Regions from separate parts of the Homo sapiens genome. Here region 2 is linked to region 1. The links come from fine-mapping of genetic effects on plasma protein levels. A gene starts in region 1. The other region holds a variant in brackets. All regions are shown on one strand. Distances are from middle to middle. Region 1 holds the start of STX7 (syntaxin 7). Region 2 overlaps STX7 (syntaxin 7).

Region 1 (15,262 bases):
TAAGTGGCATTATTCTTGTTTTAATGATGAGCAAACAGCGGGCTTATTATGATTAAGTAATGGTAACCCAACCCACCCACAGGTGGAGGTGAGATTCAGTCCCAGGGTTCTGATGCCAAGGCTATCCATGCTTGCTACCACATAGAACTAATGCCACAGAAGATTTCTGGTAGAGAAGAAGCCACAGTGAAGTATGTGTCTTTGCTCTAAGGGACAGTGTTGGCAGGAAGTACAACAGCTGAACTGTTGAGACCATTAGAACAGTACTGGTTCTATGCCTGGAACTCTGGTGCACTTTGAATGTGCCTGGCCACGCTGAAAGTCCTGGTGGCTTTTAGATATTCTCCAACTTCCCTCTCAGGTACAGCTGATCTATTCTGGGCTCTCTGGGTCTCACCAAATCCTAGAGATGGATCCAAAAGCAATTTCATTAAAGGGTAAATTCAAACCTAAAGTCAGACAGCTGGACCACTACAGTGGGGAGACAGGAATAAACTTCCTTCCAGGTAGCCTTGGACTTGGGCCCAGACAGAACAAGAGTAGACATGGGGATTCAATGACACCAACACCATCCGGAACATCCTTGAAACCATGCAATTTTAAATGCATCTCCAAGTCACTTAAAAAAAAAAAAAAAAAAAAAAAAACACAGGTTTTGAATAGCCAAAGCAATTTTAAGAAAAAGAACAAAGCTGGAGGCATCTCATTGCCTGACCTCAAATTATACTAAAAGGGTATAGTAACTAAAACAGCATGATATTCATATAAAAACAGACACATAGAACAATGGAATGGAATAGAGAAGTCAGAAGTAAAGTCACATATCTACAGTCAATTGATCTTTTTGACAAAGTTGACAAAAACATACACTGAGGAAAGGACGCCCTTTTCAATACATGGTGCTGGGAAAATTGGATCGCCCCATGCGGAAGAGTGAAACTGGACCCTTATCTGTCAACATATAAAAAAAAAAATCGACTCAAGATGGATTAAAGACTTAAAAGTAATACCTAAAACGATTAAAATACTAAAAGAAAATATAGGGAAAACTCTTCTGGACATTGGTTTAGGAAAAGAATTTATGACTAAGACCTCAAAAGCACAGGCAACAAGACAAAAAACAGACAAAATGAGATTTAATTAAACTAAAAAGCTTTTGCACAGCAAAAGAAATAATAAACAGAATGAACAGACAACCTGCAGAATGGGAGAAAAATATCTGCAAACTACACATCCAACGAGATTAATATCCAGAATTTACAAGAAACTCAAACAACTCAACAAAAAACCCCACAAATAACCCCATTAAAAAGGGGGCAAAGCACATGAATAGACATTTTTCAAAAGAAGACATACAAATGGCCAAGAAGCACATGAAAAATGTTTAACATCAGTAAGCACCAGATAAATGCAAATTAATACCACAATGAGACATCATCTCACAACAGTCAGAATGGCTATTAAAAATTCATCCACAAACACATCTTGAACGGAAAAAAAAGAAAAAAAGTCAAACAAGTACAGATGTTGGCAAGAATGCAGAGAAACAGGAACACACACACTGTTGGTGAGACTGTAAAGTAGTACAACCTCTACAGAAAACAGCATGGCAAGTCATCAAAGAACTAAAAATAGAATTAATATTTGATCCAGTAACCTCGTTACTGGGTATCTACCCAAAAGAAAAAAAAAACCATTATACCAAAAAGATAATCTGCACTCATATGTCTATTGTAGCAATATTCACAAGAACAAAGATTTGGAATTAACCTAAGTGCCCATCAAGTGTCTATTAACATTCCTGAATGGATAAAGAAAATGTAGTGTATATAAATGCAATGGAATACTATTCAACCTTAAAAAAGACTGAAGTTATGTCTTTCACAGCAACACAGATGAACTGGAGGCCATTATCTTAAGTGAAATGACTCAGAAAAAAGTCAAATGCTGCATGTTCTCACTTGTAAGTGGAACCTAAATAATGTGTACACATGGACAGAGAGTGGAATAAGAAGACATTGGAGACTCAAAAGGATGGGAGGGTGAGGGATGAGAAATTACTTAATGCGTACAATGTACATTATTCAGGTGATGATTACACTAAAAGCCCAGACTTCACGCTATGCAATATAACCATGTAACAAAACTGCATGTGCACCCCTTAAATTTATATAAATAAAATGGCTTTATTGAGATATAATTTATTGAGATATGGCAATACAATACACCTACTTGAAGTACACAAGCCAATGGTTTTTAATATATTTACAACATTGTACAATCATCACTTTTAGAACATTTCTATTACGCTAAAAGGAAAGTTTGTAATCATTAGCAATCGCTCTCCATTTCTCCCCAACCTCACTGGCCAAAGGTGACTACTAATCTACTTTGTATCTTTATAGCTTTGCTATTCTGGACATTTCATAGGAATGGAATCATACAATGTGTTCTTCGAGACTAGCTTCTTTCTCTTAGTATGCTTCCAAAGTCCATCTGTGCTGTATCATATATCAGTCCTTCATTCCTTCATTATTGCCAAATAATATTCCTTCATTATTGCCAAATAATATTCCAAGGTATGGAGAAAGACAATTTTCTCTTGGTTCAATGACATCTTCCTTTCTCCTTTCCCTCTATCAAGTAGATCTCTGGAAAAACTGGCTTACAAGCCAAAACAAACACATTGAATGAAAAAATGTTCAGTTTGTTATTCATGTAATCTCTGGGGATGCTCCTCCATATACATGGTTCCATTTTAATCTATACCTGAATGAGTCGCACATCCATGTCTCCAGCTCGTACCCTTGGCTTTCTCTCGTGTCTACATGTCTGTGAAGCTACAAGAACTCAGCCATTGCCTGTGCGGCACACCATGGAAGTAGCAACTGGAAATTTCTACTTTGGGCAAGACACTTAGCATTTGGGCCCACTGCCAGAATCAAAATGAGATAATGCACATCCAGAGAACAAATGCTTTTCCACCCTACACAGAGGAAAGTTATGATCTGTTCTTGCAGCTGCAGGACCAGCATCAGCACAAGACCAAGAGAAACTCATCACCTGTCTCAAAACCATGCAAGCACACCTGAGGCCTACTCTCTCTCCCATAAAGAGTTCCATCAAGTCAAGGACAGTATTCTACAGCATTTTCCTTACCCTTAAAACTCACACCAGTGTAGCCCAAGTCTTCTCACTGTTTTCTTTCAAGGCCACCTTTTTTCCTCTCTGGAAAATCAATCACTTAGTCACAAACACAATCAATTTTCTTCATCCCTTTCCTCAAGCTACTAAATGTGAGAAAGTTCCTGCTGGTGAGACAATTGGCAAGTGGCTTCATTCACCCAAAGAGGTGCTACTTAGATTGACTGGAATTATGAGTTTTGTTTTACTTTTTCTTTGTTTGGCGTTGTTGTTGTTTGAGACAGGAGCACCCAGGCTGGAGTGCAGTGGTGTGATTACGACTCACTGCAGCCCTGACTTCCAGGCTCAGGCAATCCTCCCATCTCAGCATCCCGAGTAGCTGGGTCCACAGGCACCTGCCACCACATCCCACTAATTTTTTGATTTTTTTATAGAGATGGGGGTCTCACTTTGTTGCCCAGACTGGTCTTGAACTCCTGGGCTCATGCGATCCTCCAGTCTCAGCCTCCCAAAGTGCTGGGATTACAGGTTTGAGCCACTGTATCTAGCCAGGAATCATGTGTGAAGAATGAAAAGCAATTTGCAAAAGATAGAGAAGAAAGATGTGTAAAATAAAACAAAGTTAACAATGGCCAACACTCATCCAGGACTTACATTTCCTAAGCATTGTGCTTATGACTTTTAAATTTATTTTCTCAGTTAATTCTTATAAGCCTATCATGTGGGTATAATTGCTAATGTGATTTTTTTACATGAAGAAACTGAGGCATATCATTATGCCTCATTATCATTATAAGCAAAGGAGCAAATATTTGAAAATAACCACAGAGCCGACATTTTTTAAACACTAAGCCATACTGCTTCCTTGTATAACAAAATTGAGGGCAGGTGAACTCAGTTAGAAAAACCAAATTTGGGCTGGGCGCGGTGGCTCACGCCTGTAATCCCGGAACTTTGGAAGGCCAAGACAGGCAGATGACAAGGTCAAGAGATTGAGACCATCCTGGCCAACATGGTGAAATCTCATCTCTACTAAAAAAATTAACTGGGTGTGGTGGCATGCGCCTGTAGTGCCAGCTACTCAGGAGGCTGAGGCAGGACAATCGCTTGAACCCAGGAGGCGGAGGTTGCAGTGAGCCAAGATCACGCCACTGCACTCCAGCCCGGCGACAGAGCGAGACTCGTCTCAAAATAACATAACATAACATAACATAACATAACATAACATAACATAACATAACATAACATAACATAAAATAAAAAAAGACAAAAGAAAAACCAAATTTACCACTTTTCTGCATGCCCCATATGAAGTTTTGCTATTCCCACTCCTAAGATGAAGGAATATGTTTGGGATAACTACATGAGTTGATCAAGGTAACACAGAGGAATAGCTTACTCCTTTTCTCTATTATTCTGCTAATAAGTGGTATCTAAAAGGCAACAACAGTTGGCTCTTTTGATAATGAGACACACAAAGGAAAGGAACCAAATGGTTGTCTTTAAAAAATATATATACAAGCATAGACAGACAGGATAGGTAACTACAAATTGATTAAAAGCTTATGATCTCTGCATATAGGCTAAATGGATGCTGAGTTATTCAGATGTCTGCTTTCCACATCAGTCTCCATTACCTAGCCCAGAGCTGCTACGCACTAAAGTACTCTTGTTGAATACTTTTGAAAGCCCACTCAGAATTCCTATTTAATTGCTCAGAATAATAATTATATAATTCATTACCTAGACCTGTACTAACAGACTAGCCACTAACTAAATGGGCTGTTAAAATTATAGTGGTTACTAGAAGCAGAGAAGGATGGCGGGAAGGGGATAGCCAAAGGTTGGTTAACTAACACCAAAATACAGCTAGGTAGGAGGAATGAAGTCTAGTGTTCTATACCCCTAAAAGGTGACTACAATTAATTACAATTTATTGCATATTTTCAAATACTTAGAAGAAAGAATGAATTGTGAATGCTCTTAACACAAAGAAATGTTAAATGTTTGAGGTAATGGATATGCTAATTACCCTGATTTGATCATTACACATTGTACACATCTACTGATGTATCACATGTATCCACAAATATGTAAATCATTATCTGTCGATTAAAATAATAAAAGCAAAAAAATCTTATTACAGGTTATTTTAAGCTGCTAACAAGATAACTGATTGCAGTAAGAAACTACACTTTTACTCTACATTTCATTTTTTCATGTGACAATTTACACCATTTTATATTGTGTATCACTTAAATTACATTGTAGCTCTCGTTTTTAAAAAATTAAAATTAATTAAAATTAAGTTAAATGAAAAAAATCAGTTCCTCAGTCACACTAGACACCTTTCAAATGTTCAAAAATTCTGTGTGGCTAGTGGCCAGCAGCTTGGACAGCTCATTCATAGACCACTTCCATTATCACAGAAAGATCTATTGCACAGTGCTAATCTCCACATTGCAATAATCATCTTTCTATGAAGATATACAAACACTATAAAGAGAAAAACAGGAAGGGAGAATCAAAGTGCAACACTCAGATGAGAGTCTTCTCAAGACGGCTTCTAAAGAACACAAAGGAATGAACAAAAGGAATGTTAAAATTTAATCTTGAAGTGTCAAACACTACTCCCAGTTAAAATCCGATATACTGTAGAATCCTTAAGATTTCCATTTAGCATATATCTCATGCTCTATAAATCTACCCTGGGCAAAGAAGTAGTCAATTTCACTTTCTTAATCATTAGCATCAGCATAAACAACTGGACTTCTCTATACCCTCTACCCCAAGTAAGTTCTGAGGGGTGGGGGGTGAGCATTTTTTTGTCTGTTTTGTGGACTGCACTATTCTCACTGCCTGGCTACATCACAAGTGCTTAACAAACATTTGTAGAATGAATGAATGTACCCACCTCCTAAGAACACACACCCAGCGTGAGGGTAAATATTACCATTTCCAAAACATAAAATTCCAGTGCCTTCTTTCAGATACCGAAGGTCCCAGGCTTCTTGCTGCCTTGGGCCTTTGCTGGGTGCCATTTCCTATTTCTAGAAGGCTCTTCCCATGATCTCCACGTGACTGGCTCCTTCTCCCCAGCAAGGCCTCATCACATGCTAGAGAAACCTTTGTGACCACTCTGATATGAAAGTGAGAACTCACCACTGGTCACTCTTTGTCAATCTAACTTACTGCTTCACAATACTCAAAAGTCGAATTAATCACTGTTTATTATTTATCCCTACACCTCTGGAATACAAACAGGAGCTACTTCTGGAATATAAACAGGAGAGAGATGACCTTGTCATCCTGTGTAATCTACAGTGCCTGGTGCATAGTAAATGCTCAAGGAATGTGAGGGTGCTCTGTCTACATAAGTATCCTCTGCAAAAACTACATTAACTGTATTCTTTGGCCTTAGCTCTTTCATCACTGACCTTTTGTACTACTTGGTTTTAGTTCACAATACCGAGGATTGTTTTTTTCATACTTTCACACATGAAACTTGCAAATTAAATGGAATCACAGCAAACTTCACTCAGACTTACTGTGAATATTTTCTATAATTTACTTTTCAATCATCAGCACTTAAAGTTTGGGGTCATAACCAAAATAAGGATTGATTTTGTTATCAAGAGCAACATAAGTAACATATCTGAGGAAAAATTATGATGTTAATCAGTTAATATGGTATCATATTAACCTCTACAGAAACTGTGAAGTTAAGAGCATAATTCTTAACTAGTCACGAGTCTGAGGCCAACTTCTCAAAGTAGCCTATAAGGCCTGTCCACAACACAAAACACAGTTTAACACCGTTATCAGCCTCTGCCCAGGTGTGCTCAGAGAACCTGCAGAAGAAATGTCCACTTCCAACATTATTAAATAGCACAGCATTTCATAATTACTTTCTTTTCTTCCAGATTCTGGGCAAGTTTTATATATTATATATAATTATAGTCAGAATACAACGATCTGAGGTAAACAAAAATTAACGTATACAGATAAGAGCCAAACAAATGTAAGAAATTTGTGGGAAAAAACACACAGCATTTGATCAGAAATGCAACTTTTTTTCTTTGTCTGAATTTAAAGAAAGTAACTAGAAAACAAGGTGGAGGAAATACTAGAAATATTTTATGTACGTTTAAAGGTTTTTATGTAAATTAATTAAAGGTGTATACTCAAAGAATGTCAAAGTATGTTAAAGTCATCAAGCCAAATTAAAAAAACAATACTACGATCCTCTGAATAAATAAACATACACGGTTCGCCTGCTACAGCCATACATTTTTCAGTTCCTCTATATTCGGGAAGTTTAGTGTGTTTTTCAATCCGTGAGTTGAAAAGAGGAAGAGGTCATTTGGTCGTGTCTGGATTCCTGAGCTGGGCCCCAGCCGGCTCTGGCGCCCTCCCCGGGGTGCGCTCCGCCAGCCGTGCGCCTCCGGAGCTCTGCCCAGGGGACCGCGGCGGGTGCGTGGCTGGGTAGGCCCACCTGACCACAGCCGCGCGCACCCGGAATGCGGAACGCGCCGCGCCCTTGCACCCGGCCGGGGGGCGTGGGGAGCCGCAGGCGCTCCGGGAGCTGGGGCAGTCCCGCCCTTCCTAGCCTCCCGAGTGCCTGCTGCAGAGCGCAGGGCGGCGGCCACCTGACCACGCGCACAAACAAGAAGGCGCAGCAGCCGCAGGGGCACCGCGCCTCCCTGTCGCCCGGCCAGGGAGCCCCCTCCCCAGGGTCCTCTTACCTGGACCTCCACGGCTCCCTCCTACACCTCCGACCGCCGTCACCCACCTACCCCGGAGCCCTCAGCTGCAATTCTCAGCTGATGGGCGGTGGCGTGGGGACGCCCAGTGCGCATGCCCGCAGCACAACTCAGGAAGAAGGCGGGGTTCACCCCTTTTCTATTGGCCCGCGGGGCTGAGTGACAGCGGCCCTCACCGCCCCTCCGGTTCCAAGCTAAGGAATGGGGGTATCAGCAAAATTGCAAGGGAGCTGTTCTTTGAAGCCTGACGTAGAGATGGTGAACGCCTCTTAGCCTGCGTGCAAAAAAGGACAGAATGGAGGACAGTTGTCTTCTTTATCTGGTGAAGCCAGCCTTCTTGCACGCGGGTCTTCACCCCGCCCCATTAGCTCTTGCCTGTCTTGTTTGCTAACCTTTAACTGCAGTAGATCGCGTTGACAGCTCTATCGAAAAATGCAAAGGCGAGTACACAATCCTAGCAGGAACAATGAAGGAATAAGTGAAGAGTCATCTCTGGGTGCTCACTTGTAAACAAGTTTTCCTAGTACATACAAGTCATTCTAAGCATTCCTGAAAAGCAGGGCGTAGTTTTCACAGGGTTTAAAACAAGCAGAGACAGTTCCAATGATAAATATGCAAATATATTGTAATTGTTAGATGAAAAGCATCAATTGCTACAAATGAAAGAAAGCCCTCTCCAAATTAATTAGAAGATAGATTGGCTTAGCCTTTGCCTATATTAAGGCAACACTATTTTCTAAAATGATTACCCGGATAGGTGATATCAAAAGTCCAGACGCACTTAGGTGGAAAAAAACAAAACCCAGGATAGAATTCTGATTGGAACTCACCAACACTAAGTGTGGAATGTTGTCTGCTTAAGAGAGATGGACAGAGAAAGAATAACCCTGAAAACGAGTAACCCACAAGATAGGAAATAAACCAGGAAAAGGTAAACTAGAGAATGAAGGAAAAAAGGAGGGAATTGTCCATGATGTCACCTGTTACACAAAGTTCAAGTAAATAAAGAACTGAAAGTAGTGCATTGTACTTGAGAATTAGGAAGTGGCTGGTGAACGTAGGAAGAAACATTTCAATCATTGAAGGAACACATGAAAGGATCTTACATCCATGTGAGGTTTAGTGCACTTTCCAAATACCCATTCATATTACCTTTGATAGAACTCTGGGCTCCGGGGAGGGAAGGTACAATGCACTACAGAAGAACCTGAGATTAAGTGGCCTCTTCAAGTTACCCTGATAGTTACTGACTATGCTGGGCCCAAAACTTAGCTGTCTGAGCCCTCATCTTGGGCTCATTCCAATTCCTTGTTTTAAAATATGTTATGAGTGGATTCCTTCCAGGTCTTTTGAAAACTTAGAATAAGATTTCATCCTTTGGTATTCAAATGGGAAAAAAAAGAATTATAGTCTAGACAAACTTGCAAAATTTAGAAGTATTAAGATAAATGAATTACTAAGAGTTCCTGACACAGTATTCCATCTGTGAATCTGGCTGCTACCAAGTTAAATTCAGCCAGGTGTCTTGAAAGTGGTAGGGCTTTAAAAGTCTCCTAATTTGATGAGTGATAATGTCACATCTCCCAAAATAAATCATTTCCATGTGCAGAAGTTACCTATGACTGAAAGCTTGTAATTTGGATTTTCAGAAATAGTAATTTGCGAGATTTGGGCCTTCTTGGAGAGATTTTGAAGGAAACCAGAAGTTGTTGAGTGGGGAATGTTATCTGCACACTTGTGGTGTCCTTATTAATATAAATACCATAAATACCTCCTATGTAACATCTCTCATGTAGGATGGAGAACTGTCCACTGCTGTATCTCCAGTGTCTGGGATAGCAATTCCAGGGAATAGAAGGAGATAATTGCTGGTTCATTTAATAGTTACTGAACTAAAAATATTTTTTACATGACCACTATGTGATCTTCTGGGAAAGCCAAAGAAGTAAAAGACGCATAAAGGTAAATAGAGCAAACAGGGACTTATTGGTAAGTGAGAAGGACAAGTTGACTTATGAAGGTTTGTTTTTATTTATAATACAGTGGGAAAACCACAACTGGTTTAAAAAATCTATGCTAGATTAAAAGGAAGCTTAAATTAATACTTAATAAACAAGAGTTAGTTCAGTTGTGCCTTATTGTTAAGCACCTTCCATGTCTCTCTACAGTCTACTTGTTTTCTGTTTAAGATCACACAAGTGCCTAGTCATATATCAAGCACAGAATTGATTTTGCCCTAGCTTTTGAACATGGAGGTAATAAACAGATATCCCGTGGAAATCTTACATGGGCCATTATAGCATGATGACCGGTATATTTGTTTCTAATTTTACCTCCTGATGACTGGTATTTTCGTTTCTAATTTTACCTCCTAAGTGTTGTTCATATGTGCCCTCTTCTCTCTGTCCCTCACGGTTGACATCCTGATCCACTGCAATAGCCTCCTTGTTGGATCTTCTATCTCCAGGTCTTCTCAACTTTATTATTGTCAAAGCCACCACTGAATATTTGAAGCTCTAATCTGAGAACTTTGCTCCAGGCTTCATGCCATTTCCATGATTGCAGCATTCCCTGAACTGTATTTCTTAAGAAAAAAAACCAAAATAATTAGATTGGGGAGAGCTGGGGAATTGTGTGGGTTGAAATAAGGAATCAGGGAATTGGTCTACAAAGAAATGTTTGGGAAACATATTATATTGCATTCTTGAAGATTCACAGAGCATATTTGTAAATTAAAGACGCTGAGAAGTGGTTCAGGAAAGAAACAAGTAAAAATTTCTTTTACCCAGTATTTTATGAGTGTATTTGATGGTGGAACTTGCCTGTAAAACTTTTAAATATGCATAATGGAAAACACTGCTCTCAAAATCAAGTCCAAGCCCCCTGCATATACACAGGGTGACCATATATTTAGTTTGCTAGGACAGCCCTAGTTTATGCTTGTTGTCCTGGCCGCCTGTCTTCTGAGCATGCCCTTTCATTCTCAAACGTGCTTCAGTTCAGATGATGCATCATATGGTCCCTATACATATAAGGACCACATGGTCTGATCCTGCCTTTCCAAGCATCAAAATTTATGCTTGGAATATGTTGGCTTAAATAACTCCTCTTTCTCTGTCTGCTCTCCCCTCCATCCCAGCAGCTAGCTCCCCAGTCACAAACCAGGGGTTTTCTTATTTCTGTGCTTCGCTCACGTAGTTCCCATTAGCTAGAAAACATTTTTTCTTCTCCCCCATGTTTTAAACGATTCTTTATTTTGGAATAATTTTAGATTTATAGAAGAGCTGCAAAGATAGTACAGCACTCCTGTATATACCTCACCCAGGTTCCCCTAATGTTTCCTTAATGTTAACATCTTACATAACCATGGTCCACTTGTCAAAACTAAGAAATCAGCATTGGTATAGCAGTACCAACTAAATTAGCTTGTATTCTCCCTGCTCCAGCTCTAGAATCAGTCATTTTACTATTAAGCACTTCTTCTTTTTATTGGAAAAAGCTATTTAGAAATCAAAGGCCAGGACCACCAGGCACAGTAGCATGGCTCACACCTGTAAACCCAGCACTTTGGAAGGCGAAGGCAGGCAGATCATTTGAGCCCAGAAGTTCGAGGCCAGCCTAGGCAATGGGGCAAAACCCTGTTGTGATGGTTAATACTGAGTGTCAACTTGATTGGATTGAAGGATGCAAAGTATTGATCTTGGGTGTGTCTGTGAAGATGTCGCCAACAGAGATTAACATTTGAGTCAGTGGGCTGGAGAACACAGGCCCACCCTTAATCTGGTGGGCACCATCTAATCAGCTGCCAGCAAATATAAAGCAGGCAGAAAAATGTGAAAAGGCTAGACTAGCCTAGCCTCCCACCCTATATCTTTCTCCCGTGCTGAACGCTTCCTGCCCCTGAGCATCCAAGTTCTTCAGTTTTGGAACTCGGACTGGCTCTCCTTGCTCCTTAGCCTGCAGACAGCCTATGGGACCTTGTGATCATGTGAGTTCATACTTAATAAACTCATATATATATATATATATATATATATATATATATATATATATATATATATGTATTCCATTAATTCTGTTCCACTAGAGAACCTTGGCTATTACACCCATCTCTACAAAAATTAGCTGGGTGTGGTGATGTGCACAGTAGCTATAGTCCCAGCTACTCAGGAGGCTGAGGTGGGAGGATTGCCTGAGCCCAAGAGGTCAAGGCTGCAGTGAGCCAAGATCATGCCACTGCACTGCAGTGTGGACAACAGAGTGAGACCCTGTCCCCCACCCTACCAAAAAGAAGAAAAGAAAAGAAATCAAGATCAAGGCACTAACCTTCTCATTGTTACTAGGGTGTCAGTGCTTCTACGCTCCCCTCAATGGACAGAGCTAGGAAATAAATTTATATATACTAATTCATGTATGTAGGATATTTACTCCAGGCTTCATGCCATCCCCATGTTGGCTGCATGCCCCAAAATATATTTGGTAAAAATAAAAGTGCTTGGACTGGGCAGAGGTGGGGTTTGTGTGAGTTGGGGTAAGGAATCAGGGAATTGATCCATAGAGAAATGTATACAGTATACATTATATGCAGTATAAGCCTTGTATAAAGTATGTCTATAAATTTAATTTTACAAGAAACTGCCAAGTTGTTTTCCAGTTGTTTTACATATCCATAGCTATATCAGATTTTATCTATATATATAAACACGAGTTCATCTAGGCATTCCCAATTCTAATCCAACATTATAGGGGTCATTCTAGCCTTCCCTTGTCCTAATTTTTAGCTTCTTTCGCTAGAAGTGAGAAACCTAGCTTCCATTATCTACCATTTATGTTCTTATTTCTATAATGTAAAAAATTAGGTTGGTGCAAAGGTAATTGTGGTTTTTGCCATTAAACCGCAATTACCTTTGCACCAACCTAATAGCTTCAGAATTGCTAACTCCTACTCTGTGTGAGAAAAAAATCTTTAGTGCAGTGTTTATGTACAATTCTTTTTGTCTTTAGCCTTATAATATTGAGTCAAAACAATGTTTTCTAAAAATCACCAAGGTCGGCTCTTTACCCATCCCCTTCAGTGAAATTAGGTTATGTTGACTTTGCAGTTAAATTCAGTTGTCATAGATCTGCATTTTATCCTATGATCCACAAATATACTGATTGATTTTTTAAATTTGTATAAAGCTCATTGTTTGTGGTATATAGTTCTGTGGATTTTTGACAGATATATAGAGTAATGTATCCATAACTCCAATACCATAGAGAACAGTTCTACCATACTGAAAATTCCCTTTCACAACAACCCTTATTCAACCCATCCCCCTCCTCCCACCCTTGGCAACCACTTATGTTTTCTATCACCAGAGTTTTGCCTTTTCCAGAATGTCCTATAAATTCAATCATACAATATATAACCTTTTGGGTCTGATTTCTTTCACTTAGCAGAATGCATTTAAGATACATCCACATTGTTGTATAAATCTATAGTTTGTTTTTTTTTGTGGCTGAATAATATTCCATTGTTTGGATATAACACAGCTTATTTATCCATTCACCTGTTGGTTGTTTCCAATTTTTGGCAATTATGAATAAAACTTCTATAAATACTTAAATACAGATTTTGGTAAAAATAGAAGTTTTCAATCATTTGAGTGAATATCTAGAAGTAGGTCTGTTGGACTGTATAAGTGTATATTTATTCATTTATTTTTGCTTTAAATATTGCTCCGGGGGAGGGGCCACCACACGTCTACTCAATGAAGAGAAATGTTTTTACAATTTACAGGTATTTTTTTTACACCTATTATGGCATGAATTCATAGGAAATAAGTTCTAGCAGCCTCCTTCTTATTGGTTCTCACACAGTGTGCTTCTCTGGATGGAGCAGGCTGCTGCTTTAATTGAACTCAGGTGACTTTCTCCTTGAGATCCTTTTCTGATCGTTTTCCTTCACGTGTTTGAGGAAGCTGTCTCGGCACTTAGAGTACTTAATATGCTCAATATGCACATCAATTATCTTGGCAAGAATCATGCCGTTAACTTGTTTGTTTACAACAGTGCCAACAGTATGCTGGGTTACATTGTAGACTCTTCCAGTTTTTCCATGGTGATAGTTGTGGGGCATTCATTTTTGAACAGCACCCAACCTCTTGATGACTACGGTATAACCTTTCTTGTAGATTCGCATGTATGTGACCAAAGGAACAACTCCATGTTTTCTAAAAGGCCTAGAGAACATGTATCAGGTGCCTCTCCTCTTTCCCTTTGTGTTAATCATTTTGGCAAATTACTGGAAGATGGCAATTCTGGCTCTACATTTAATTTTACAAAATACTTCCAAATTGTTTTCCAAGGTGGCTGTATCATTTTGCATTCCCATCAGCAATGATTGAGGATTTCTGTTACTCTACTTCTTTGTCACTTTTTGATATTGTTGAATTGAAAAACATTTTTTTTTCATTCTCATGGGTGTGTAGTGGCATGTCATTGTGATTTTATGTATGCTTATTTGAAATCCATCTGTCTTCTTTAGTGAAATGTTAATTCAAATCTTTTGCCTGCTTTTTATTGGGTTGTCTTCCCACTGTTGAGTTTTAAGAATTATTTTTGTATTCTGGTACTTTATCAAATATATCATTTACATGTATTTTCTCCTAGTCTGTAGCTCTGTAGCTTATCTTCTCATTCTCTTCTTTTAAAATTTTTTAAATTTTCTTTCAGAAAAGATCTGGGATCTGGCTATGTTGCCCAGACTAGAATGCAGGGGCTATACATAGGCCTGATTGTTGGACATACAACTTTTTAAACTTCTGGGCTCAAGCAATCCTTTCTTCTCAGCCTCCCAAGTAGCTAGAACTATATGCACATGCCACCACACCCAGCTCATTCTCTTAATGGTGTCTTTCATGGAGAAATAAGTCTTTAATTTTGATAAATTTTAGGTTGCCATATTTTTGTTTTATAAATTATGCCTTTAGTGATTAATTTAAAAGCTCATCACCAAACCCAAAGTTATACAAATTTTTCCTATATTTTATTCTCAAAGGTTTATGGTTTTACATTTCACATACAGGTTTACAATTCATTTTGAGTTAATTTTTGTAGAATGTATCAGGTATCTGTTAAGGTTCATTTCATTTGTTTTTTTGCATATGAATGTCCAATTATTTCAGTACCTTTGTTGAAAAGTCTATCTTTTCTCCATTGAATTGCCTTTGCATTTTTGCCAAAACTCAGTTGACTATGTTTCTGTGAACCTCTCTCTATTTTTCATATTCTCTTCTATTAATCTATGCATATATTTTCTCCGACATCATGCTGTCTTGATTACTGAAGCTCTAGAGTAAGTTTTGAAATTG
Region 2 (15,198 bases), 62 kb before region 1:
TTCCTCATTTTTATCCTACTATAACTAATTTTTATGAGCAAATACAGAGCTACATCAACTGGGGATCCTCCAAAATTGACAGTAAGAAACATGCTGTTGCATTTGCAGGCATGCCCAGGGTCCAGATAAGTATGCATAAATATTGTGTTGCCATAGTGATTAAGGGCATTCTTCCCAAGATGATTTGACAACAGCAAATCTTTTATAAGTACCTTCTCTAGAAGTATTTGGCAATGATCCTACCACTTCTCTGAATATTCAGTAGAAGTACAGATGAAGTAGGATGGTCTAGTAATTAAAAGTATGATCTCTGCAGACAGGCAGGCTCCCCAGTTCAAATTCTGGCTCTAGCATCTACTTGCTGTGTGACTGTGGGTAAGTTAAACTCTTTGAGCCTTAGATTTCTCATCTGTAAAATCCCTCTTTGGTAAAATGGGATAATAAAAGCTACCCCAAAGGGTTAATGGGAAGATTGCCAGTAAATGTTAAGTAGAACATACAGTTCAGTACCTGGCATGCAGAGCTCAACAAACAGTAGAAATTACGACTAAGACAGCTTCAACAATCCCCTCAGCTTGACTAAACTTCAGACAGGTTTCTTTGTGAGCATAGGCCCCTTTTCTTAGATCATTTACTTTAGAAAACTTGCAATTATAATTTCTTTCTCTATCCCTTTGTGAAGTAAATCTTCTACAACCCAGGAGCATCTTTCTCCAAAGCCTAAGAACCATGCCTTAGAAATGTAATCACCAAGAAAAATTGCACCTTTATTTCTTTGTATCTGTGGGAAAGGAGAAGCCTAACTTCAGTAGGTGCCAATTAGCAAACACAGATAGCCTGATCCCATTTACCGATCTCACCTCTAGTGTCTTTCAGTACTTACTAACTCACCTCAATGCTTAAAATTCTCCTGTCTGTTTCAGTGTGATTGAGTTCAATTTCTCCTCCATTGTGATAGTCTTGATCTCTTTTGCAATTGTCTTGAATAAAGTCTTCCTTGCCTAACTTGTCCAGTGTAACTTTTCTTACATTATAATGGTTATTATACGGAGAAAGAAGCATGGGTTCTCCTGGTTGTTTCAGCTGTATAACTTTAGTCAATATCCACTGGAGAGAATTTCAATAAAAGAAAACTATTTCTTTATGGGTTAAAAGGGATGGGCATGGGGGGCAAAATAAGAAGCACTGTGGTTCAATTACAGCGTTCTCATTTCTTCTGAAATCCTCTAGTTGAGTATTGTAATTTAAATGGAACAACTTATCTCCCTAAAAGACTGATTTTGAAAGACTATTTCCCTTTCCCTGTTAACTGCTCCCAACCCAACAGCCATCATCATTTTTAAAGGAATTCTAAGGGCAAAGAAACTAAGAATCTAAGAGAATGTAATACAATTGATGACCCAAAGAAAAGCAGCACATATTAAATTGTGACTTAAATGCTATTCAAAACATAAAATCGTGCCATTGTAGTATGTGTTTGCCTGTGTGTCTGTGCCTTTATTTCTCAATGATGAATTATATTTCAATGAAAAAGAATAATGCCTTCCAAGTAATAGTATCGTTATATAAGAGACAATTATGCCACTAAATTTAGATAATTTAGAAATAGTCTTAAGGAGAGAAACAAAAATTAAAAAGTATTGAAATACAAAGTAAGGAACTGAGATTATTGTTTTTCTCAATGAAGATAATATTTACTTTTGCTTTAAGATCTAGATATGACAAATGTTTTCTGGTTAACAATTTATCCAAAAAGAAAAAAGAATGTCAACCTTTTTTTTTTCTCTATTCCAGAGAGCTCCAGAAGGTTTTTAGATTTAAAAAAGAAAACAAAAAACAATAATAATACTCAAATGTCATATTGGAAGCCTTAGGCAAGAGCTGTTGGTCTTTTAATTTGCTCTTAATACTATGATCAAATAAAAAGAAGGAAAATTTTACAAATCATTAACAGCTTCGAGGATGAGGGAAGAACAGATTTTCAAGCATTCTTCTTTATTTAGTCAGAAATGACTGGCTCAACCTCAGCCTACTTCTCTGAGGCACATTCCTACCAACTCTTGCATATTAAATTTTGCCAGAGCAATGGGCCTGACATGGCCTTTTGAATCACAGTGAATCACAGTGACCCTTATCCAACTGAATGTCTCCTCCAATCATGTTTAATGTACATCAAGCATTCTACAGTGCCAAGATGAAGACCTGCATTGTTTTTTTAAAACCCACATTACCTTGTCATTGTGTAAGAGAAAGATATATTTAGGATTGAAGGGTGCTTCTTATTAGACCCATTCAGGAAGAAAGTAAGTCTAGAGGAGCCAAGCTCAAAACATACTCTTCACCATACACAATCAAATTCCTCTCAGAAATAATGTTCTTCTTCTCCATCTATATTTTGGAAAATTACATGAAAATCAGTAGATACTTGTAATGCAATCAGTGCTGAATTATTACTCAACAAGCTGAGTCTTCGAGGGCACCAGCAAAACAGCAGGAATGACTAAGAAAAGTTTAACTTTGATGAATTTATGTAGCGTCTTGAAATAAAATGTAAAAATGAAGCCATTTTCATTTCAGTATTCAGAGTTTTATAACATTTTGAAAAAGTAAATTTTCTTTTGAAGATTTTATAAATTACACATGGGGTTGTTATTACAATCTCTTCAGTGTTCAAGGTTTCTAAAATTCTCAATTCAGCCCTGGATACAAAAACTCTAAACACAGAGGGTTAAGGTATTAAAGATGAAAGCTAGTACCCTTACAACTATTTATATTGCAAAAGCTTTGCCCTCCTGCAAGAACATGCAGTTTCCCAAACAGTAACCTCTCTTTACAAGGTTATGCTTATTAGCTGGGATTCGAAGCTCAATAGCAACACTGTTCATCCATGGTTCAATTCAGATTGTAATTTCTTTTTAAACTACCTGACCCTTATAATCATATGGTGAGTTGGTCTGATCATTCATCTTCTCGAGGCCAAGTACTTGGTCTGAACACAGAGTCACTTGTGTTTCTGAAGCCTCTCTGCATCAAGATGATTGGGGTGAAAAACTGTCAATTGAAAAAAGTTTGAAAGAAACCTTTTATACAATGTTTTCATTGTCTTGTTCTTTTTCTGGAACCACAATTTCTGATTGGGAAAACAAAAGTCTTCCTAGATACAAGAATGAGGTTTTAAGAGATAATCTTTGTTTCTAATTAAGTGTGGAAGCTATCAACTATCGCATTGTCCCCAATGTCAGAATGTGCTGAATAAGATTTTGCTTTTTCTCAGGGCCCAGCATTTATTAAGCACTCAGCAAATGCTTACTAAATGAATGAATGACTCTACCCAAGCTTGTGTCTTTGTCTCGAAGCTGTATCTTCCATCACAGTATTAAAATGTTTTTTATGAACATGAGCATCTGGCTGCACATACAGAGCAGCACATTCCACACACTGCCCTAATTGGATCACCAATTGGAGGAAAGTAAGTCACAAGCTGATTGCCTAGAGTGGGTTTTTCCCCATCTCTGAACCAATCTCTGAGGCAAAAAGAATGCTATTAGGCTGACTGATTTATGTAAAGCAGTGCCTATCATTTCTGCAGTTAGGATGGAGTCAATTCCATCCAAAGCCAATAGAAGAGAGACAGTACTCTAAAAGAAGGCCTAGGAGCCATGAATAACTGCCGAGGGTACCATAGACACTGGGTTGGACAAGCAAGAAATAGTGACGATGTGACTTCTATTTTTATGATGGCTCAGCGGAAAATTAGTAAATACAACCAGTGTGTTAGAAATAATTCCGTATCTCCTAAGATACATTGGTTAAAAAGATACTAATAAGTTTTTGTGCGTGTAACATTTGACACCAGGCTTTTAAGTAAAACACCCTAAGATGGAACTTACTGTGTAGTGGAAAGAGTTAGACTCACTAGACATTGATTAGCTGACTGACATAGAGCGTTTCTTATCAGTCAACAAAACTATTTCCAGAGAGGCTTGAAATAAAACAGTTGACTTTATGTAGATTATGGTTAATATCTTTTGCAGATTTTCTAAGAAATCTTTCCCTATCAGAGGTCCCCAAAACATTCCTTTATCATTTTCCTTCTAAATCTTTTATACATGCTTAAGAAATATGCACATGCTCTAAATTGGGGGAACATGATCCTTTATGTATTAATTGAATCAACTTTGGTTACCATGTTGTTCTATTTACTTTTTTGCTGCTCGAGCTAAAAATTGAGTGACTTCAAATACAACATAATAGTTTTTTTTTCCGTTTTGCCCTCTACATTTTTACTTTAATAACTTTGTTTAGAACTGTTATACCTACTTCAGTTGAAATTTTTATTATTTTTGAGAGTCTCCTTATCCTTATTAATGCTTTTCACTTTAATATTTGTAAGGCTAATACTGATACAGCTATCCTAACCAGGTATATTTGCTTGTTTTATTTTCCCTAATTCTACTTTTTGTCTTTCTCTGTCCTTGTACTGTCTTTTGTAAACTGTATATATTGAACAAGGTAGACTTTTTTTTTTATTAATCTGGTGAGATAGGCAATTTATATTTATTGTAACCATTTATTATATACTATGCCATTTCTTTGCTTTTTCTATGCTTTTTCTTCCTTCTTGCATTTTTGTGGTCTATCAAAGTTGGGATTTCTAAAGTGTTTTTCCCTTATTTCAGAATGTTTCCTCTCTACTGGTTTGAAAGTTATATTGTATTGCTATTCTTTAAAGGTTATCTGAAAATTTTCTGTTAAGTACTTAGATTAACAACATCTAAAGTCATTCATTATCTTAACTTCCATCCTAAAGAGTATCAGGATCTTGGAGCACTCACACTAACTTCTAAGTGCTCCCGGACACTTTCCCCACATATACATTTCCTGAGTTATGTAAAATGTTGCTAGTATTTTAATTACGCTCTTTTTTACTCCACAGAGTAAATACTTCTTAATATAGACAGTATTTATTTACATTTCCCATGATTACTGATTTTTTAGCTCACCATACCTTCTTGCATCTCAGACTTTCCTCCTAGTCATTTTGCTGTACTCTAAAATTCATCTTTATTCTTAAGTGAAAGTCCCTTGTTTGTAAATTCTCATTTTGAGAAAAAAGTGTTTTTAATATACCCTTGATTTTGAAAGATAATTTCACTGGGCACTCATTCTATTGAGTTATTCTCTCAGTACCTTAATGATGTTATTCCACTGTCTTTTGCCTTCCAGTTTTGGCACTGAAAAGTCTACTGTTGGCCAGGTGCAGTGGCTCATGCCTCTAATCCCAGCATTTTGGGAGGCCAAGGCAGGTAGATCACCTGAAGTCAGGAGTTCGAGAACAGCCTGGCCAACATGGCAAAATCACGTCTTTACTAAAAATACAAAAAAATTAGCCAGGTTGTGGTGGCGCACACCTGTACTCCCAGCTACTCGGGAGGCTGAGGCAGGAGAATCAATTGAACCCGGGAAATGGAGGTTGCAGTGAGCAGAAATCACACCACTGCACTCCATCATGGGTGACAGAGCAAGACTCTGTCTCAAAAAAAAAAAAAAAAAAAAAAGGTCTGTCAATTCGTTATTCCTTTAAAAGTGGATAAGTTATTCTGGCTGCTTTTAAGATATCTTTGCCTTTATTGTTCTGAAGTTTGAGTATAATGAATATACATTGGCTTCCTTTTCCTGGTTGATATACATTTTGCTTCTTGTATATGTGGATCCACTTTTTTTTTTTTTAGACAGGGTACAGTGGCACCATCATAGCTCACTGCAGCCTTGAACTCCTGGGCTCGTGTGATCCTCCCTCCTCAGCCTCTTGAGTAGCTGGGACCACAGGTGTGTGCCACCATGCCTGGCTAATTTTTGTATTTTTTGTACAGATGGAGTTTCACCATGTTGCTCAGGCTGGTCTTAAACTCTTGGGCTCAAGTGATCCTCCCACTTGAGCCTCCCAAGTAGCTGGGACTACTGGTTCATGTCACCACATCTGGCTAATTCTTAATTTTTTTTGTAGAGATGGAGTGGGGGCTCTTGCTTCATTTCCCAGGTTGATCTCAAACTCCTGGCTTCAAGTGATCCTTCTGCTTTGGCCTCCCAAAATGCTGTGATTACAGGCATAAGCCACCATACCAGGTCCCAGGCTTTTCTTAGCTCTGGAAATTTGTCAGCAATTACCTCAATTTTTTTCTATTTTTTACTTCTTAGACTCCAATCAGCACATATTAAACCTTCCCATTCTATCCTTCAGGTCTCATAATCTCTAATTCTTATTTTCTATCCCTTTACCTGTTTTTGCTGCAATATGTTGTTTCCTCAGTTAAAACTTGATAGTCAACAATTCCTTTAGTTGTGGTGAATCTGCTCTTAAACCATTCATTATGTTATATATTTCAATAATTAAATTTCATACCTAAGTTGTCTTTGGTTCTTTTTAATATCTGCCTTTTAACACATCTCTCATTTCATGTTCGTTTTAATTCATACATTATTTAAACATATAACTGTTATTCTACTTCTGCTAATTGCAATACCTGAATTCCTTGAATATCTAAATCTACTGTTTCTCAATGCAAATGGTGTGTTTCCTTGCATGTTTGATTAATCTAGAAGCATTAATTAGGGAGGCTTTCCTTCGGAGGGGATTTTCATCCACTTCTTAGAGTAACCACCAGAGTCCACTGACTTAGGACTACTTTAATGCTTTAAAGCATTCCTGGTTTTATGAAGGAATCTTAGGTTCACTTTCTTTACTTTGCCTGGAGTCCATGGCTTAAGTCTCAGAGGCACAGTTTTCCTGTTTCTCAACTACTTTAATTTTAGCCCACTCTCATTGGTAATAGCCTTTAGTGATTATCTTTCTTTCTAATGAGCCAGGAAATGAACTAATATTATGTGTGTTGTATTTTATCCAAGAACTAACTGTATTTTAGCAGGAGGATCCTTGAGTATACCTAGTCAACCATATGGCAGGAAGCAGAAATCATCTACTTCGTAGTTGATTTTGGTAATTTGCATTTTTCATATAAATTATTCATTTTCTGTTTTGTGATATATTGGCATAAAGTTGTTTATAGTGTCTTATTATTTTAAAATCTATGTTTGGTTATTTATCTGTACTTTCATTCCTAAATTTTTTATGTCTTCTGTTTTTTTCCAAATCGGTTTCACCAAGTTATGTGTACTTTATTTATTTAAAGAGACCAACTTTTGTTTAAATTGATCCTCTCAAAAAAAAAAAAATTGATACTCTCTTCTATAGTATAGGTTTATACTCCAGGGGTCAACCAACATTTTCGGTAAAGGGCCAGAAATTTTAAAATTGAAAAATGCAGGAATCAATATGAAACACTTAATTGATAGGCTCAATAGCAGAATGGAAGCTACTGCAGAAAGAATGAATAAATCTGAAGATAAAATGATAGAAATTACACAGTCTGAACAACAGAAGAAAACAGGCAGAACAAAGATGAACAGAACCTCAGGGACTTACGGAACTACAATAAATCTAACATTTGTGTCATCAGAGTCTCAAAAGAAAGAAGAAAGAAGGAAGACTGAAAAAGTTCTTGAAAAAAATGACAGCTGAAAACTCCCCAAAATTGGCAAAAGACATAAACATATAGATGGTGAGAAGACCTCAAATATAATAAACCCCCCAAATCTACAAGATACATCATGGTTAAACAACTAAAAACTAAACACAAAGGAAAAAAAGAAAAAGAAAAAAGACAAATGACACCTATCTATAGGGACCAAAACAATTTAAAAAACTGGATTTCTCATGGGGAACCATGAAATTTTCTTTCCTTTTTTTTTTTTTTGACAAGGAGTCTCGTTCTGTTGCTCAGACTGGAGTACAGTGGTGCGATCTCAGCTCACTGTAATCTCCGCCTACGGGTTCAAGTGATTCTCCTGCCTCAGCTTCCCAAATGGCTGGGATTACAGATGTGCACCACCATGCCGGCTAATTTTTGTATTTTTAGTAGAGGCGGGGTTTCGCCATGTTAGCCAGGCTGGTCTCAAACTCCTGACCTCAAGTGATCTGCCCGCCTTGGCTTCCCAAAGTGCTGGGCTTACAGGCGTGAGCCACCCCTCTTGGCTGGAAGTGGCAGAACAATTTTCAAGTGCTGAAAGAAAAGAACTATAAACCTACAAGTCTATGTCTAATGTAAATATTCTTCAGATATCAAGGGAAAATCAAGACATTTTCAGATGAAAGAAAACTGAGAGAATTTGTTGCCAATGGAACTACAATAATAATAATAAGGCTAAAGGAGTGCTCTAAACAGAAAGGAAATGATAAATGAAGGAGTTTTGGAATATCAGACATCAAAAGTCTAACAAAAAATACAACCAAAAACTCTACATATAAATCTGAGAGCTTAGATGAAATGGACTAATTCATCTAAAAATACAAACTGTCACAACTCAATATGAAATAGATAAATTAAACAGCCATATAACTATTGTAAAAGTGGAAATTACAATAAAAAGAACTCCCTCCCCCAAAATCTCCAGGCCCAGATGATTTCATTGGAAAGTTCTATCAAATGTTTTAAAAAGCGCTGACACCAATTCTATACAATCCGCTTTAGAAAACAGAAGAGAAAGGAATACTTTCCAGTTCATTTTGAAGCTAGTATTACCCTGATACCACCAACCAGTATGTCGCATTAAAACAGATGCAAAAATCCTTAACAAAATATTAGCCAAAAGAATTAAGCTATATATACAAAGATACACCACGACCAAGTGGAGTTTATCTCAGGGATGTAACAATGGCTCAACATTCAAAAATCAATCAATGTATCTACCACATGAATGGGCTAAAGAAGAAAAATGGCATTATGTAAATTAAGGCAGAAAAAGCATTTGACAAAATTCAACATAAAATTCATAATAAAAACTTGCAGAAAAAAAGGAATAAAAGATAACTTCCTTAACTTTAGCAAGAGCATCTACTTTAAAAACCTACAGCTAACATTATACTTCATGGTGAAACACTGAATCCTTTCTGCCTAAGACCAGAAACAAGCCAAGGATCTCTACTCTCACTGCTTTTATTTCTGCTGGAATTTCTACCCACTGCATTAAGGGACTGAAAGGAAAAAAAAAAGGAATATAGGTCAGAAATGAAGAGATAAAACTATTCATTATTTGCAGATGACATGACTATCTATATAAAAAAAAAATCCCAAGGAATCAATCAAAATCCCCTAAAATGAGTAAGTGGGCTCAATAAGGTCTCAGTATACAAAATAGAAAAATTCACTTTATTTCTATGTACTTAGAATAGACATGTGAACAGGAAATTCAAAATACAATGCCATTTACAATCTCTCTCAAAAATTAAATTGCTTAGGTATAAATCTAACAAAACATGTACAGACCTTGTATGCTGAAAACCACACAATACTGATGAAGGAAAACAAAATTTAACTGAAATGAAGTGAAGTGATCCTGTGATCATGATCGGGAAGGCTTAACATGGTAAAGATGTCAAATCTCCCCAAATTGATGTATAGGTATAACATAGTTCCTGTCAAAATCCCAGTAAGATATTTGAATAGATACAGACAAGATTATTCCAAAGTTTATACGGGAAGACAAAGGAACTAAGTGGCTAAAACAATTTTGAAAAAGAAAGTGGAATAAACCAGCCTATTTGATTTCAAGACTTACTACAGTAATCAAGATTTTGGTGTTGGTGGAGGTATAGACACATAGTCTAATGGAAAAGAATAGAAAACCCAGATATAGACCCACACGAATGTGCCCAACTGATTTCTCATTAACTCATTTTTGCTCAACTGATTTTTGACAGAGGTGCAAAAACAATTCAATGGACAAAAAAGAGCCTTTTCGACAAATATCATGTTGGAGTAATTGAATATCCATAGGCAACAACAAAAAAAATGAACCCAGACCTAAGTCTCACATTTTATACAAAATTAACTGAAAATGGAATATAGACTTAAAAGTAAAACGTAAACTATAATACTTTTAGAAAACAACATAAAAGAGAAAATTTGGGGGATCTAAGGAGAGAGGCAAAGTTCTTGATACCAGAAGCATGATCCATAAAAAGAAAAATGGATAGAGTGGACTTCATCAAAATTAAACACTTCTGCTCTGTGAAAGGCCCAGAAAAGAGAAATGAAAAGACATGCTACTGACTGGGAGGAAATATTTGCAAATCACACATCCAACAAAGGACTAGTATCTAGAAAAAAATACACACACACACACACAGAGGCACACACACACATTATTTAAAAGCCCTCAAAACTCAACAGAAAAAAAATCCAATTAGAAAAGACATGAAGAAACATGTCACTAAAGAAGAGATACAGGTGGCAAATAAGCATATGAAACAAAGATGCTCAACATCATTGCCATTAGCGAAGGGAAAATGGTAAATCAAAACTGCAATGAGCTGTCACTATACACTTATCAGAATGACTAAAATAAAAAAGAGACACCACCAAATGCTGAAAAGGACATGAAGCAACTAGATCACTCATACACCACTGGTGGGTATATAAAATAGTACAGCTACTTGGTATAAGTTTGGCAATTTCTTAAAAACTAAACATTCAACTACTATATGACCCAACTACTATATAACTGCTGGGCATTTGACCCAGAAAACTAGATTATGTTCACACAAAAACTTGTACACAAATGTTTATAGCAACTTTATTTATAGTAGCCAAAAACTGGCCCAATGTCTCTCAGCAGGTGAACAGTTAAACAAACTGTGGTACATCTATACTATGGGATTCTATTCACACTAAAAAGTACCTGTCAATAGACTTGATACACATAATAAGCTGGATTAACCTCCAGAAAATCATGCTAAATGAAAAAAAGCCAATCCCAAAAGGTTACATATTATTATGATTCCAGTTATACAGCTTTATTGAAATGAAAAAAAAAAAAACTATAAAAATGGAGAACAGATTATGGTTGCCAAGGGTTAAGAAGGGAGTAGGGATGGGAGTGAAGTGGGTATGGTCATCAAAAGCAAGATGAGGGATCCCTGTGCTAGAAAAAGTTCTGTGTGGAAACGTTCTCTATCTTAGCTATACCAGTGTCAGTATCCTGGGTATGATATTGTATGACAGTTTTGAAAGATGTTCACTGTGTGGGAAACAAAGTGAAAGGTACACGAAAGAGGTCTCTGTATTATTTCTTACAACAGCATGTGAATCTAGTTTCTCAAAAGTTTAGTTAAAAATACTAGCATTAAACATATTTTATACTTTATAAAGAATGGGCTCTATTTCAAATGTCCATACCATTCCAAAGGAAAGTATTGGTCACATACTCCATTCTAGATTTAAAGAAAATTTAAAACAACATAGAAAATTTCTAAATGACTAAGAAAAATGTTTGACCACAGATCAGGAAAAGACATAAGGACAATAGGGTAGCCCTAATTTTGAACAAAAAATGTTTGTTTATTGCCTCCAAGATAGAACATGAATTTCTTGAACAAGAAATGTTTATTGCCTCCAAGATAGAACTAACGTGAATGATATATAACTAAGGTTATCTTACTATTAGCAAATTTTGGTATATACCCACTGCAAAATAGTACTTAAATGTTAAAACTATGATAACCTTTATGAGGCTGAACATTAAATCTGGCCCTGGGAAGAGGTTGGATGTGGCCTGAGGCACATTGAAAATGCCTCGAAATGAACTCAAAACGACCACAGTACCTAGGTTTGAGATAAGAATGAAATAAAATATATTCCCCATTAAAATCTTGCTTATTTTTAGAATCATTACTGACAGAAGGATCAGCTTTGATCTGAGAGCTTTTCACCGTCAAGTTTTTAGCTATACAAGTTATTAAAAAAGCAAAAGCTTGCATCTTACTTGGATTAAAAACCTAATTTCTAGAAAACAGGTTCTCTTCTTTCTGGTCTGAGTTTAACATTTCAGATCTCCCATTAAACAACTGATCAAAAAACTTTCAGAGGGCATTAAAAAGTGAAACTAGGTATCAGAAAAATCTTAGTCGAGGCTAAATAACTGCATTTATAAGCTTTCTACCAATGCTATTAGGTGTTGGAGTTAGTAACTACTGCCTAACGATACTTACAGTAAACACTTAAAAATTTGTACTTTGGGTTGGCCAAAGTGGGAATTAATGCCCTTTCAAGTTTATTTAAAGATTCAATTCAGTTCTAGAAAACTCCCTCGTCAACAAGTAGAGGTGTTGTGCGTGTAACGACTGGACAGGAAATCTGGTTTTGCCTTCCACCACTTACATTTTAAGCATAAATGCCATCACTACACAAAACCTACGGGAATCCCACTCTAAGCAATTAAGTGACCAACCTCTTAAAAACTTGCCAGAAGCTACAGTGTCTACAAAAACCTATTTAGTGTGTTATTTAGCTCTATTTCTGCATTTAAAATTAGGATTATTTGGAGAAAAATATTACATAATATTCATGTTAACCAAATGATTACAAAAACAAAGAATTAAAATTGGTGTATTGATATGGTATTTGAATAATGAGAAAATGGGCCAATAGGAAGATTTTCTTCTTTATTCCTATTTGATTTAAAAGAAAAAGATTTGCCAAGGGATGGGTAGGGTTAAATTAAAAACATTTTAAGAAACATTTCTTTATATGGAGCATACTTACTGTTTTTGCTTTGAGTGCATTCTGATGAAATATAGATTCCAAATTCCCCTTGGATCTCACCCTTCTGTCTAGTGCTTTGCCCTCTATTTGGGGCAGTAATTCTATACATATCCTGTAAATGTCTGTCCTGATGATCAGGATGCCCAAGCTCTGAATCCAACTGCTGCCACCAAGAGAACGGCTCCTTTTTGGAGCCATTACACACAGATCATCACTCAAATCAGTAGTTTCTCTTTAGAAAACTAGCAATTTTCTGGTAGTCTGTCAATTAAGAAAAGAAAATGAAATTCAGTTACTTAGTAAGGAAAACTGGATAAACAGGAGGCTGGTCCAAACGGAGATTTATATTTAGACATTCCCTTTCTTCCTTGCCTCATTCCTTTCACACAGCTATTTCCCTTCTTTTAACACACCAAGTTCTTTTTATATGCCAAATAACAAAACATAAACTCCCTGAGGGCAGGAAGCTTATTCTTTTGGTTCACTCTTAGAACACTATGCCCAGGCATGTAGTAGCCTGGCAAAAAGCCGGCCCCAAATAAGTGCCAAATTAAGTATTTATTAAGCAACTACTACGGGAGGGAAGGAAGAAGGGAAGGAAGGAAGGAAACTGTGTTAAGTCCTGGGGCCCCAGAAGCTTAGTATATGTATTTTTTATTTTGGTTGGAAAAAAATGACTTGCTTACCATCTAGAGCCAATGCTTCTAAATTTTTCCATCAAAGAATCTTTAATGAAAGTGAGGAAAATTCTGAGGCTTCCACTTCACGTGGTTTGAACTGTACATCTCAGTGTTTGTTTCACAATTATGCTAGACTGTCAACTCACTTCTCTTTCTAGAATGTCCTCTGCAGTGCAGGTAGACCAGAAACCACACTTCCCACAAACTCCTTCTGTCTCTGGTTCTAAGTTGAGAGTTGACCATGAGAAAAGGAGAGACCATCTTTCCTCAGAGGCCACTGCAGACAGAAGTGTAGGCGGGCAGAGGACATGAGTTTCACAGCAGTTTCAAAATCTCTTGCAAGGCACTGGCTTTGGAGCTATTAACAGCTGACAGCTGGGGACAGCTCCCTGAGACACACTGTCAGTGCTGCACGCCAACAGCACAGCCTTCTGGATGTTCTCAAGAGTCACAGCAGTGCCTGGGCCAGCTCCTGAGATCCACCCACTTTGGGGCCGCAGACACCTTCCTCACCCACCCTTTTGATGTCTAATTCCCTATGTTAAAACACTTTACACTTATAATCCATCAAGTGGTTTCTGTTTTTCTAACTGAATTGTTAAAATATGCAAAATTCACATTAAAGAAGTTTCCTACCTATCTTGTGACCTCAGTGAATGAGATGCTGCTTTATCCAATCTACTGACTTTGGAAAATCCAGCTGAAATGAGGAAAGATAATCGTGCATGTCTGGCAACCAGGTAATTTCTTTCCTATCT[T/C]TCATGTCACAGTATTTTGAGGACACAAATTCCTAAATACTCAGAAAAAAATGGTTTTATCTTAATTGATTTATAAATTATGTTAGGGTAGTTGTTAAACAGAATTTTGTCAAAGAAGCAGTACACTGTAACACTTTCAGGCTCCCATTGGTTTAAAATTTGATAAGTGTATTTCTTTGCTGACAAGTCAAACTGTTCAAATGTTATGGAGGACTAAAAAGGCCTGGGATTCACAGGCTCATTTTTTGTTTTAACTGAATCATGAAAATACACAACTTTTTTTTTTCCAGGAAAGACAGATGTTATTTACCACCAATGAATTTTTATCATATTTAAATGAACTTGAAAATGTCATTCAACTCAAATCCCTCAATCAACTTACTTCAGCCCATTCTGAAACTTCATATTGCAGCAAACCAGCCATGTGAAAGAAATAAATTCAATTTTGACTTTCAAAAAAAATAAATGCTGCATAAGTTACCCTTGTGGACCTTAGCTATTAAGGTGGACAATGACTTTATTTTCTTTACGTAAGTTTTATATTTTATTATGACATTCATTTTTTCTACATGAAGACACAAATAAAAATTATACCAACTACATAAACTATTTTGTACTTTCCTTGCTAAACCACAGATGTATTTCATGGAAAGAGGGGCCTTTAAAGGCACTTATTTATCATTGTAGGTGTGTCTAAACAATTGATATTCAAAAACACAACTTTTTGTGTACAAAATTTTACAATTTTTAACAAAAGCAGTGAAGACACTAAATAACCCAGTGGCGACCTCTTCAAAGTGCAGTGTCCTTGGTCACCAATGCAGATGCTACTGGGGCAGCCAGCGGGCTCAGAGGGTCCAACTCCAGACACTGCATCCATGGCTGTCCTAGACTGAGTTGCACTTGTAAAAGAGATGGTCCCACACCTACTAAAAAAACAAGCTACTCTAGTATCAATATGACATCACTCTTTTACCATCAATCATATTGCAAAACCATAGTATTTAACGACCAATAAACAGCCAAATACCTAATGCCACATTGTCGTTCAATTTACCTGGCTGGTTAATATCAGTCTGTGTTTGAGTATTTCTTTTGAGC

Evidence for each region. PIP is the posterior inclusion probability: the model's chance that the variant is causal. The UK Biobank Pharma Proteomics Project read protein levels with antibody pairs (Olink). The fine-mapping took linkage between variants from a reference panel, not from the people measured, so its PIPs are less certain.
Region 2: its variant is fine-mapped to the plasma level of the STX7 protein (UK Biobank, PIP above 0.99).

The regions. Positions count from the first base shown.
Region 1 is chr6:132,505,118-132,520,379 of GRCh38, forward strand. It overlaps STX7 (syntaxin 7), which reads right to left and starts at 7,999. Exons shown (of 10, transcript NM_003569.3): 1 at 7,890-7,999. It also overlaps the pseudogene RPL21P66. RefSeq lists enhancers at 7,247-7,748, 8,106-8,305 and a silencer at 7,466-7,955.
Region 2 is chr6:132,443,302-132,458,499 of GRCh38, forward strand. It overlaps STX7 (syntaxin 7), which reads right to left. Exons shown (of 10, transcript NM_003569.3): 10 at 2,566-15,198. Among named protein-coding and RNA genes, the nearest start is that of MOXD1, 49 kb to the left of the region's middle. The variant T/C (reference allele first, on the strand shown) is at 14,098.